3 linked regions of the Homo sapiens genome follow. The protein of the gene in region 3 purifies or fractionates together with the protein of the main gene of each other region. This does not show direct contact. Each region holds a gene or a part of one and is shown on either strand. Other genes may lie near its edges.

Region 1 (3,729 bases), on a different chromosome or scaffold from region 3:
TTTTAACTATTAAAAAACTAAGCATAGGAAAAGACTAAGAACAAGTACATTAACATGTTAACATCAGCTGCATACAAATGGGCTAAAGATAATTTATTTTTCTATTCTTCTTTCCTTTCTATGGTGTTTTATTTAAAAATAATATGATGCTGGGCATGGTGACTCACACCTCTAATCCCAGCACTTTGGGAGGCTGAGGTGGATGGATCACTTGAGGACAGCAGTTCAAGACCAGCTTGGCCAATATGGCAAAACCTCTTCTCTATTAAAAATACAAAAATTAGCTGGGTGCGGTGGTGCACACCTGTCATCTCAGCTACTCGGGAGGCTGAGGCACAAGAATCGCTTGAATCCAGGAGGCAGAAGTTGCAGTGAGCCAAGACTGTGCCACTGTACTCCAGCCTGGGCGACAGAAACTCTGTCTCAAAAAAACAAAATAAAATAAAATAAAAATAATATAGATACAAACACTCCCAACCATACAAAAAAAGAAAAAACCTGGACTTAACCTTTTAAAAAAATAACACACTCTTGGCCAGGTGCGGTGGCTCACGTCTGTAATGCCAGCACTTTGGAAGGCCGAGGCAGGCGAATAACAAGGTCAGGCGATCACAACCATCCTGGCTAACACAGTGAAACCCCATCTCTACTAAAAATACAAAAAATTAGCCAGGTGTGGTGGTGAGTGCCTGTAGTCCCAGCTACTCGGGAGGCTTGAGGCAGGAGAATAGCTTGAACACGGGAGGCAGAGGCTGCAGTGAGCCAACATGGTGCCACTGCACTCCAGCCTGGGCAATAGAGCAAGACTCCGTCTCAAAAACAAACAAACAAACAAAAACACGGCCAGGCACGGTGGCTCACACCTGTAAGGGAGGCCAAGGTGGGTGGATCACACAAGGTCAGGAGTTCAAGACCAGCCTGGCCAAGATGGTGAAACCCCGTCTCTACTAAAAATACAAAAATTAGCCAGACATGCTGGCGGGCACCTGTAATCCCAGCTACTAGGGAGGCTGAGGCAGATAACTGCCTAAACCCGGGAGGCGGAGGCTGCAGTGAGCCGAGATCGCGCCATTGCACTCCAGCCTGGGCAACAGAGCAAGACTCTGTCTCAAAAAACAAACAAACAAAAAAAAACCACTTTCTAGACCTTTTTCACCTATAAAAGTATAATAATTTATCTCCCAAGGTTAGTATGCAAATTAAATGAGATAAAAGCTCTTTGTAAACTGTAAATAAGGAATGCTTTAAAATAATATTTAAAAATCATATACAGCATGCAAAATTAAGGTATTATAAAAGCCTAAGACAGCTAAAGGACAAGAGATCATATACCGACATACAAATATACTACAGGGTCAGGCACAGTGGCTCACACCTGTAATCCCAGAACTTTGGGAGGCCAAGGTGCGTGGCCATCACCCGAGGTCAGGGGTTTGAGACCAGCCTGGCCAACATAGTGAAAACCTGTCTCTACTAAAAATACAAAAATTAGCCAGGTGTGGTGGTACACAACTGTAATCCCAGCTACTCAGGAGGCTGAGGCAGGAGAATCGCTTGAACCCAGGAGGCAGAGGTTGCAGTGAGCTGAGATCGTGCCATTGTACTCCAGCCTGGGAGACAGAGCAAGACTCCGTCAGACACACACACACAAAGAAATATACTATAGATTTGGGAATCTTCCACACTGAGGTAATACTAGATGAAGTAGATTCTTTCCCTAAACTTTTTACAAGTATTAGAATCTATTTTAAAAATCAAAATATTTTTCTAAAATTTCTTATGAATATTGAAGTTTTACATGTTACAGAAATGGACTCCCACATACAAAATACAGTATTTTGCTACATGTTATTCCAACTTACACATAAGACAGAAAAAGACTCCCTAGAATTTAAACTGCTAAATTATTTCATTGTTTTAAAAAGCCAAGCTCTGCAGAGATAAATCTAGCAATCAACAAATGTTCTCTCAGAAGTTACTTGCTTGAAACATAGCACAGCATTCTAAATGGTGCTTCCTCCCTTCATCCCCATTTCTGGTACTTAGGCTTAATAATAAACATCTCTACATACAGTACATACTTTATTTATTTATTTATTTTTTAGAGGCAGAGGTTTGCTCTGTGGCCCAGTGGAGTGCAGTGGTACAATCATAGCTCACTGCAACCTTCAACTCCTGTGCTCAAGTGATCCTCCTGCCTCAGCCTCCCAAGTAGCTGGGGTTACAGGCACATGCCACTATGCCTATTTTTGTTTTTTTTGCAGAGACAGGGTCTTGCTATGTTGCCCAGGCTGGTCTCAAACTACTGGGCTCAATCGATCCTTCCACCTCAGCCTCCCAAAGTGCTGGGACTACAGGCGTGAGCCACTGCACCTAGTCATGGTACTTATTTAAAAACCAGGCAGTAAGCTCCTAAAGGGCAAAAAGCATGTCTTTTACTTGTCTTTCCCATAAGAACCACCAAGCATAGTGCTAGCCCATGTTCGATGTTAATCCATACATATGTTGAAAAACACTCTAGCTAACTCATGTTGAAGATGCTCTACTAACCATTTAAGAGTTACTACTCATGTCTGGTTACACAACTTGAGTCTATCTTGAACTCTTCAAGAGGCAACCAATAAAAAAAGTTTAAAAAAAAAACCTCTCCAAATATTACATGAAAAACATTTTCATGTAAATAAGGAATGCTTTAGATTAATATGTGAAAATCATATACAGCATTGTTCCTTTAAGAAAGCAAGACTATTATCTGTGATGAGAAATCACAGTTCTAACAATGTGATGTTAAAAAGACTAATTTCTGAATAGTCCATAAGTTGAAGCATACTGCTATACTTGTTCACATTTACAACCTGTACCCAGAATGTTGTTTCTTATAGATCCTAATCCAACAATTTCATTCACTATGATTTTTCTTAGGGGGAAGAAGATTTTAAGTTTTGTTGTTTAACTTTTGAGGCAGAAAAATTTAAAGCTGACTGGTTAGGTATAAGGTTTCTTTCAAGTGAAAACAGACTAATCTCTAGGTTAATTCCAAGATAAAAGTCTTAAAATTAAACCTCTATTATGAAAGAGATTCTAAAAAGATTAAGCATGAAATGCACCCAATCCCTGCCTTATAAAAAATCGGTAAAAGCTGTATGAATAGCTTCCCACTTTTGCACATAGACCTGAGATTTAATATACATACAGTATATACATTTTGCACATGGGTATCTATATGTAGTGATTTAGAGGCAACACATCAAGGTAATTGAGTACTTTTCTCTCCTAAGTTTAAAAAAAAAAAGGTTTCTAAAGTGCTGCCTTAAGTTACCATAATTTGTGGATTAAAAGATATATTAATAATACCTAAGGGAAATTCCAGAGTACAAGCACCTGCCAGCCAAGTTGCCTGAAATTCATCAGCTGCGGAGATTAAAAGAATTCTTCACTTGTTTTTTATGTAAAACAAAGATAACATAATCAGTACCATGTAACTTCAATGTGGCATTTATAAAATGGCCAATCACTTATCATTCCTATGATTTAAAAAACCACTACCTAGTCTTAATTGCCATTAGACATCTTATAAAATGCACATAACACAGTGGATTTCTTATCTAAACATGCAACAATCAAGGGTACAGTTTGAATTTTAAGTTTTCACTTCACAAAATGAGTCACCATAGGATTCTCTGAAATAATCTCTTCTCTAAAATTATTCTGTTTATAAAGTACTCAATT
Region 2 (2,839 bases), on a different chromosome or scaffold from region 3:
GAGCTTTCCAAGGAATTATTTGTCCAGGGGCATATTATTCCTCCCACTACAAATTATTAAGATTGAATAGCTGACTGTTTAATAAAAGAACACCTCAGCACTCAATACAGCTAACTTGGTCCTGACACTCCTAAAACTTAAGTGGGTGGATGATCCAAATGAACTGACAGGCAGTTTTGTTTTGTTTTTGCAAGGACAGTTATAAAATAATATTAACACATTACTTAAGATCTCTAACTGTGAATGTGTCCTGGCTCAGACAGCATTTCGGATTCAGACGGCTACTCCTGCCGTACCCATTTCTCCTCTCAATATTGGGTTTACGCCTTCTTCCTTTTCATCTTTTCCTTCCTAACTCCTCTCCACAATGATCATTATTTTGTCTGACGCCTGCTTGAACATTATGTATAAGGCTTTACTATAGAATAGAAAGTCATCAGGAAAACATTTTAACAAAATAAGCAAGACAAAAACCCAAAGACTATACACAGTCCAGGACAGACCTTCAGAATCTGTTTATTTCACAATTGCTAGAGCACCATGTGAATTGGAATGCCTGCTTTGGCACTGCCATCTGAGCCAAAAGTGCCTTCTTTAAAATTCCCACTGTGGGGTTCAACTGGCAGGTGCTGTCATGGATCGAGGAAAGGGAGGAAACTTGGTCCTCACAGCAGTGATGTACGGTAGGGGGTGAGGGGCAGAGATGGAGCAAAGGAGCCAGCCACGTGGTCAGGAGGTTGGTTAATCACAGGGAAAATGAACAAATAAGCCAATGTATTGGAGACTCTGGAAGTCCAGTTTTTAAATATAGGGTGGAGAAGATACAATTGTGGAAAGGGAGAAGACTAGAATAAACTCTGTGGAGTAGATGTGAAATAGGTATCAGTGTGTACTTGTTTTTAATATATATATGGATGGATGAGGTAACAAGCATAGACGCATATATTTCCAAATTTGTCCACTGGGAGAACGCACAGTGGCAATGCTAGCACAGGGGCAATGAGCACAGCCTTTAGCATCCGGATCTTGGTTTTAAATACCATTCTCCACTAATATGAACCAGGACTCTTTGGAGAAATGGCTGATGTCAGGAGCGGGGTAGGGAAAATAGAAGACGAGCCTGGAACATCTTGTGGTGCCAGAAAGCAAGGAAGTGCTCAATGAACCATGGGGTATGTCCAAAGGACACAGGAGCTAGCTGGAAAGTGCTCTCGCTAGTCAAATCTTGGACAATGGGGGCATCAAAATAAATCATAACTTACAGATGATAAAACAGGGACCCATGTTCTATACTGATATAAATATTGAATAAATGGGGAAGAAGAGACCCCGTTTCTACAAAAACTTTAAAAATAATCTGGGTGTGGTGATGCATGCCTGTAGTCCCAGCTAACTCCAAAAGCTGAGGGGAAAATGGCATGAGCCCAGGAGTTTGAGGCTGCAGTGGGCTATGATCTCATCACTGCACTGTAGCCTGGGCAACAGAGCAAGACACTGTCTCAAAAGAAAAGAAAAGAAAAGAAAACTACCATTTGGCAATAACTGATCCAGACAAGGATCATCAATGGATGCTAAAAGTAAAGGGTAAAATTTTGAGAAATAGGATATTGAGAGTCTCAAAATAGCTACCCACAAAATACGTAATTCCTCATTAATTAATACCTGTAATAATCATTTCACTATGGATACATATACCAAAACATCATGCTGTACTTTTTAAGTTTATACCAAAAAACAAATACAAGTGGAGAAAATACTAACAGTGGAGAAATCTTGAAAACATCGTAACCAACTGTTAAAAATTAACATCACCAGTAATGGAAAAAATTGACATGATGTGCCTCCTGATACAATGCAGAGAAGAAGACAGCATCACCTCTCTGGTATTCCTGCCAAAAATTCACAACCTGAATCTAATCTTGAGGAAATATCAGACAAACCCAAAGTGCACATCATTCTACAAAGTACCTGGCCTGCATTCTTCAAAAATGTCAAGGTCACAAAAAAGGAAAAACCAAGGAACCGCTCCAGATTGAGGAAGACTAAAGGGAAAATGTAACTAAATGCGTGCTTCATCCTGATTGGACTGTGGACCAAAAAAGGAAAGGGTTATTGTAAGGATATTTTTGGAGTAAATGGCAACATTTGAATGGGGTTCGTGGATCAAATGGTAGAATTTTATCAATGCTGGTTTCCTGATTTTAAGTACTGTGGTTATGTAGGAGTGTCCTTGTTTTTAAAAAGTATACACTTAAGTATTTAGTACTAATGGGACATCACAATTGCAACTTAGTAACAAACAGTTCAAAAAATAATGTGAATACATAGCTAGAGAGTGGTATGGAAAATATGGCAAGATGTTAACAATAGAAGAATCTAGGGGAAGGATATACAGGATCTTTTGAACTATTCTACTTTTCTGTAAGTTTAAAATTATTTCAAAATAGTTAACAAATAAGACAAGTAGTATTTGAGCTGTTAGGAATTTGTCACACTGAGATTTTTGTTGTTTTTGAGACAGGGTCTCACTCTGTCACCCAGGCTGGAGTGCAGTGGCGCGATCATTAGCTCACTGAAGCCTCAATCTCAAGGGATCCTCCTGCCTCAGCCTCCTGAGTAACTGGGACTACAGGCATGAGCCACCACACCTGGCCAATTTTTCTGATTTTTAATAGAGATGAGTTCTCACTATGTTGCCCAGGTTGGTCTCAAACTCCTGAGCTCAAGCAATCCTCCTGCCTTTAGCCTCCCAAGGTGCTGGGATTACAGGTGTGAACCACTGTGCTGGGCCTACACTGATTTTTATACTATTAGAAAAATCTCTACTTAACGGTTTCAT
Region 3 (3,729 bases):
GGACTGCTGTGCAGGAACAGCCGTGGAGTTGCTGGGCATCTGCTGCTCTCTAGGGCCTGGGAGGGTGGTGCTGGGCTGACAGGACACAGAGCCCACAGGGCCGGCGCACAGAAGCTCTACCTGCCACCGCACCCTCTTCCTGGTTTGGGGTGAGGCTGATGGCAGCGTTCATGCCCCTCTGCTCAGGCGACGTGGATGTGATTGGTGTGGGGGCAGATGCCTGGCTGTGTGAGGGCCCCGGGCGTGCCTCTCCCCTCTGGTTCTCCCTTCCCCTTGGAATCCTTGGGTGGGCGGGAGGCTCCATCCATCAGCTCCCCCAGTCCCCAGCACGCCCCACAACAGAGCACAGTCATGGGAGCTCAGGAGGAGTGGTTGGCACCAGCAGGCCCAGCTGCGATGGTGCGGTGTGAGGCAGGCCTGGGGCCTCTCAGGTGGCTCCGAAGGGAGGGTCCGGCCTCCGCCCTCAGTGATTACTTAGATTCTGCTCCCTCAAAGTGAACTAGAGGCCAGTCACTGGATGAAGAAACAGGGTCAGAAGGTGACACAGGCGGGCCCATTCATTCGCACCTGTCAGCAGAAGCGTACTCCATGGGCAAAAACACAGACATCGACCCAGCCAGGAGGGTCCCCTTCCAGTATGCTGAGGCCAGGAGGGGCCGTGCCCAGGATCGGGGCCCGGGAGGGAGGGGCCGTGCCCAGGATCGGGGCCGGGGAGGGAGGGGCCGTGCCCAGGATCGGGGCCCTGGAGGGAGGGGCCGTGCCCAGGATCGGGGCCCGGGAGGGAGGGGCCGTGCCCAGGATTGGGGCTGCGGAGGGAGATACCGTGCATTCAGTTTGTCACTGAAGCTGTGTCTGAGCGAAGGCCTGAAGGAGCCGCCATGTGGTCGTCTGGGGAGGACACATCCCCTGCTTCTGGACACTCGGAAGTCCTGGTGGGAGCCGGTGGCTGCGGGGCACAGACAACCACACCAGCTGGACCGCTTTGTGCCACCTTGGGAACTTCATGTTGGGCACTAATTTTAGGATTCTCCCTGTTTCAGCCACGGATGACATCGTGAAGGTTGAAGTCTGGGATGTAGTAGACAAAGGTGAGGCGTCTCTGTTCTGTGTCTGCTTCTCTCTGGGACTGTGTGCTCTGCGCAGAGAGGCTTCCTTTCTTTCCCCCGGCGCCCATGCATCACCCACCATCCTCGTGGACGGTGCCCAGGGTCTTGCTGCTCTGCTCCCCTCCACATCCAGTGGCGACCCCGCAGCGTGGCGCAGCCCCTCCTGTGGCACTGCATGCTTTGCTGCTTTAGCATACTCCCCGTCTCTGAGTGACCGCGTGCACGGTGGCGGCAGGTGCAGCCGGGGGGTGTGCTTTGAGCCCCAAGGCCCAGGGTGCTATTTTGGGAGCCCTCCTCCTGCACTGCCTGGCGGAGTAGCCCAGCACCAGGCGGCCCCCTGCCCATAGCTGAGGACCCAGCTCCTGCGCTCCTGTCCCTGCCAGGGATCCCCAGCCACACAGACCTGCACTCTGGGGACCGTGGGAGGGCAGCACCAGCCCCCGGGGTGTCCTCGACATCGTTGGTCTCCTCCTCAGCCACAAGGTCATGAGTTCCTCTAAGTCCTCAGGGTGGAGCTCATGGCCCTCCCCGGGGCCCATGGTCCGTGTGCATGTGTGGTGTGTGCAGGGCTGGCCACGTGCACGCCCCGGCCTCACAGGCCTGGCTGTGGCCTCGTTACGAGGCTCTGCTGGAAAGGCGGCCGCCGCCTCTGTGTGATGGTGTCTGTTCGGATGGCGCATGCTCCCCTCCCTCCACCTGTGCTTTGTTGGGGTGGGTTTGGCCATGGGGGGTTAGAGGCAGGTGCTCATGCAGTTCCCGCAGGGGTGCTGGGCCCCTGCGGCTCCCACCACATTGCGCTGGACTCTTGTGGCCCGTGCTGACCTGGTGTTCCAGATGCTGTCTCTGCAGAGCTCTGCGTGGTCTCTGGTGTTAGAGAGGTGGCCACCCACCGCCCTATCATTGTCCTCATCCCCACTGTGAGGAGAAGCTATCAGATCTGCCTGTGGCCCCCAGGTGGCTCAGGAAGGGCCGTCCTGACCCCCATCCTGGCCCCTTTCGGAGCTGCAGAGATTTCCTGTGCCTCCAGCTCTGGCTTCCTGGGTCTGTCCTTGGCGTGGAGCGGGCACAGGCTTCCCGTAGACACGGTTGCCCAGAGTGGGGTTCATAACTGGGCACTGTAAAGGGTGTGGTCTCCACGGCTTAGGATGGGCCCCCCCTTCCTGGTGGCCTGCTGTGCCCGGGGCTGGTGTGGAGGCCTGTGGGTGCAGAGGCCGCCTGGCCCTGGGCTTCCTCTGGGGTTACATGTGTACCCTTGCACCCACCTGTTAGCACCCACCGGGAGAGTCTCACTCAGCCTAAACCAGGGCCCCTCAGGAGGAAAAGGTCCCCAGCTTCATGATGGGGCCCAGTGTGCCTTCCATCCCCGCCCTGACTCAGTGCCCACTGTGCGAGGTGTGAGCACTGTCCACAGCAGCCAGGGCGGCCGGTGGGGAGTGCATTGGAGGGGGTTGAGGTCTCTTGGGCACCTGGTGAGTTCTCAAGGGTGAGAGGAAGCCGAGGCCATCAGGCTTAGCTGACGCTGCATGGGGCAGGCTGCCAAGAGGGAGGCTGAATGGAGCAGCCTCAGGTGAGCCGACAATCCTCACCTCCGCCTGGTCAGCCAGGACCCGGCTCCCCTCCAGTCCCGCCTGCTTTCCCCAAAGCAGATCCAGCCAGTCTCAATGGCTCGCCCGGGGGGTGCTGGTTAGGCTGTGAGCATCCTTCCTGGGTGCAGGCCCCCGACAGCCAGCAGTGCTGTGCTGTGTGTGTGTTGGGGACTCTGCTGAGCCCTTTGTGGCCAGACTGGGGAGGCTCCTCCGGGCTGGCTCTGTCCCCTGTACCTTGTGAGGGAGGGGCTGACCCCCTGACTGGGTTACATCGTGGTGAGCAGTTCAGAAACAAGCTGTGGAATGAAGTGGACGTGGCGTTTTAAACACATGAGCCCCATCTGTTCTTAGGGGTTTTGTTTGTTGTCCCAGTCCGTGACTCCAAGACTGGGACCCCCAGAGTTCCCAGGATGGTCTGGAGCCTTTATCCTCAGGTCAGCATTGTGGAGTTAAAGGGAGGGGACCACGGCCCCTCATTCTCAGGAGAGCCATGGTGACCTTGATGGCGGAGGCTCAGGGGGACCTGGACCGTGGACACCACACAGCTGCCCTCCTCCCTCCCGAGGCCATTTCAGGGCTGGAATCCCTGCCCCCCTCTCCTTTCCTCCCGGGCTGGTTGTTGCCTTGAGAGTCCGTGCGCTCATCTCCCCACTTTTACCCCAGGGGGAGGCCCCTCACCTTCCCACCATATCCCTTGTACTTCCTCCCACCCTGGACTTGGGGGAGCTGGGGGGAGGGGGCCCTTCCTTCAGCAGCAAACCCTCCTGGTGTAGGGCTGTAGGCCATCCCACCGCAGCCTGTCCAGGAGCTGCTGAGCCTGTCAGCCCCAACTAGCACCTCCTGTCCAGGCCCGGCCCAGCCCTGCCTCCAGAGCCTACAGAGGGGCCTCGCCCAGGTCCTGCTGCTCCAGAGCTTGTGGGTGCCCACGCTGCAGGCTGTTTGGGGTGGTGGAGTAGAGCACCCGCTGGAGCTGGGGGCTGAGTGGCCATGGGGGGACCATGCTCCTCCTATGGCCCAAGGCCCAGGGGTTCCACCTC

Evidence for each region.
Region 1: the proteins of RABL6 (region 3) and EML4 fractionate together in Homo sapiens (co-fractionation; one large-scale study listed by BioGRID). This does not show direct contact.
Region 2: the proteins of RABL6 (region 3) and CPSF2 fractionate together in Homo sapiens (co-fractionation; one large-scale study listed by BioGRID). This does not show direct contact.

The regions. Positions count from the first base shown.
Region 1 is NC_000002.12:42,172,217-42,175,945, reverse strand, and holds part of EML4 (echinoderm microtubule-associated protein-like 4), read right to left. Parts: intron 1-3,729. UniProt on the Homo sapiens protein: Essential for the formation and stability of microtubules (MTs). Required for the organization of the mitotic spindle and for the proper attachment of kinetochores to MTs. Promotes the recruitment of NUDC to the mitotic spindle for mitotic progression.
Region 2 is NC_000014.9:92,169,807-92,172,645, reverse strand, and holds the end of CPSF2 (cleavage and polyadenylation specificity factor subunit 2), read right to left. Parts: 3' UTR 501-2,839; downstream 1-500. UniProt on the Homo sapiens protein: Component of the cleavage and polyadenylation specificity factor (CPSF) complex that play a key role in pre-mRNA 3'-end formation, recognizing the AAUAAA signal sequence and interacting with poly(A) polymerase and other factors to bring about cleavage and poly(A) addition.
Region 3 is NC_000009.12:136,824,739-136,828,467, forward strand, and holds part of RABL6 (rab-like protein 6), read left to right. Parts: intron 1-1,040; coding exon 1,041-1,088; intron 1,089-3,729. UniProt on the Homo sapiens protein: May enhance cellular proliferation. May reduce growth inhibitory activity of CDKN2A.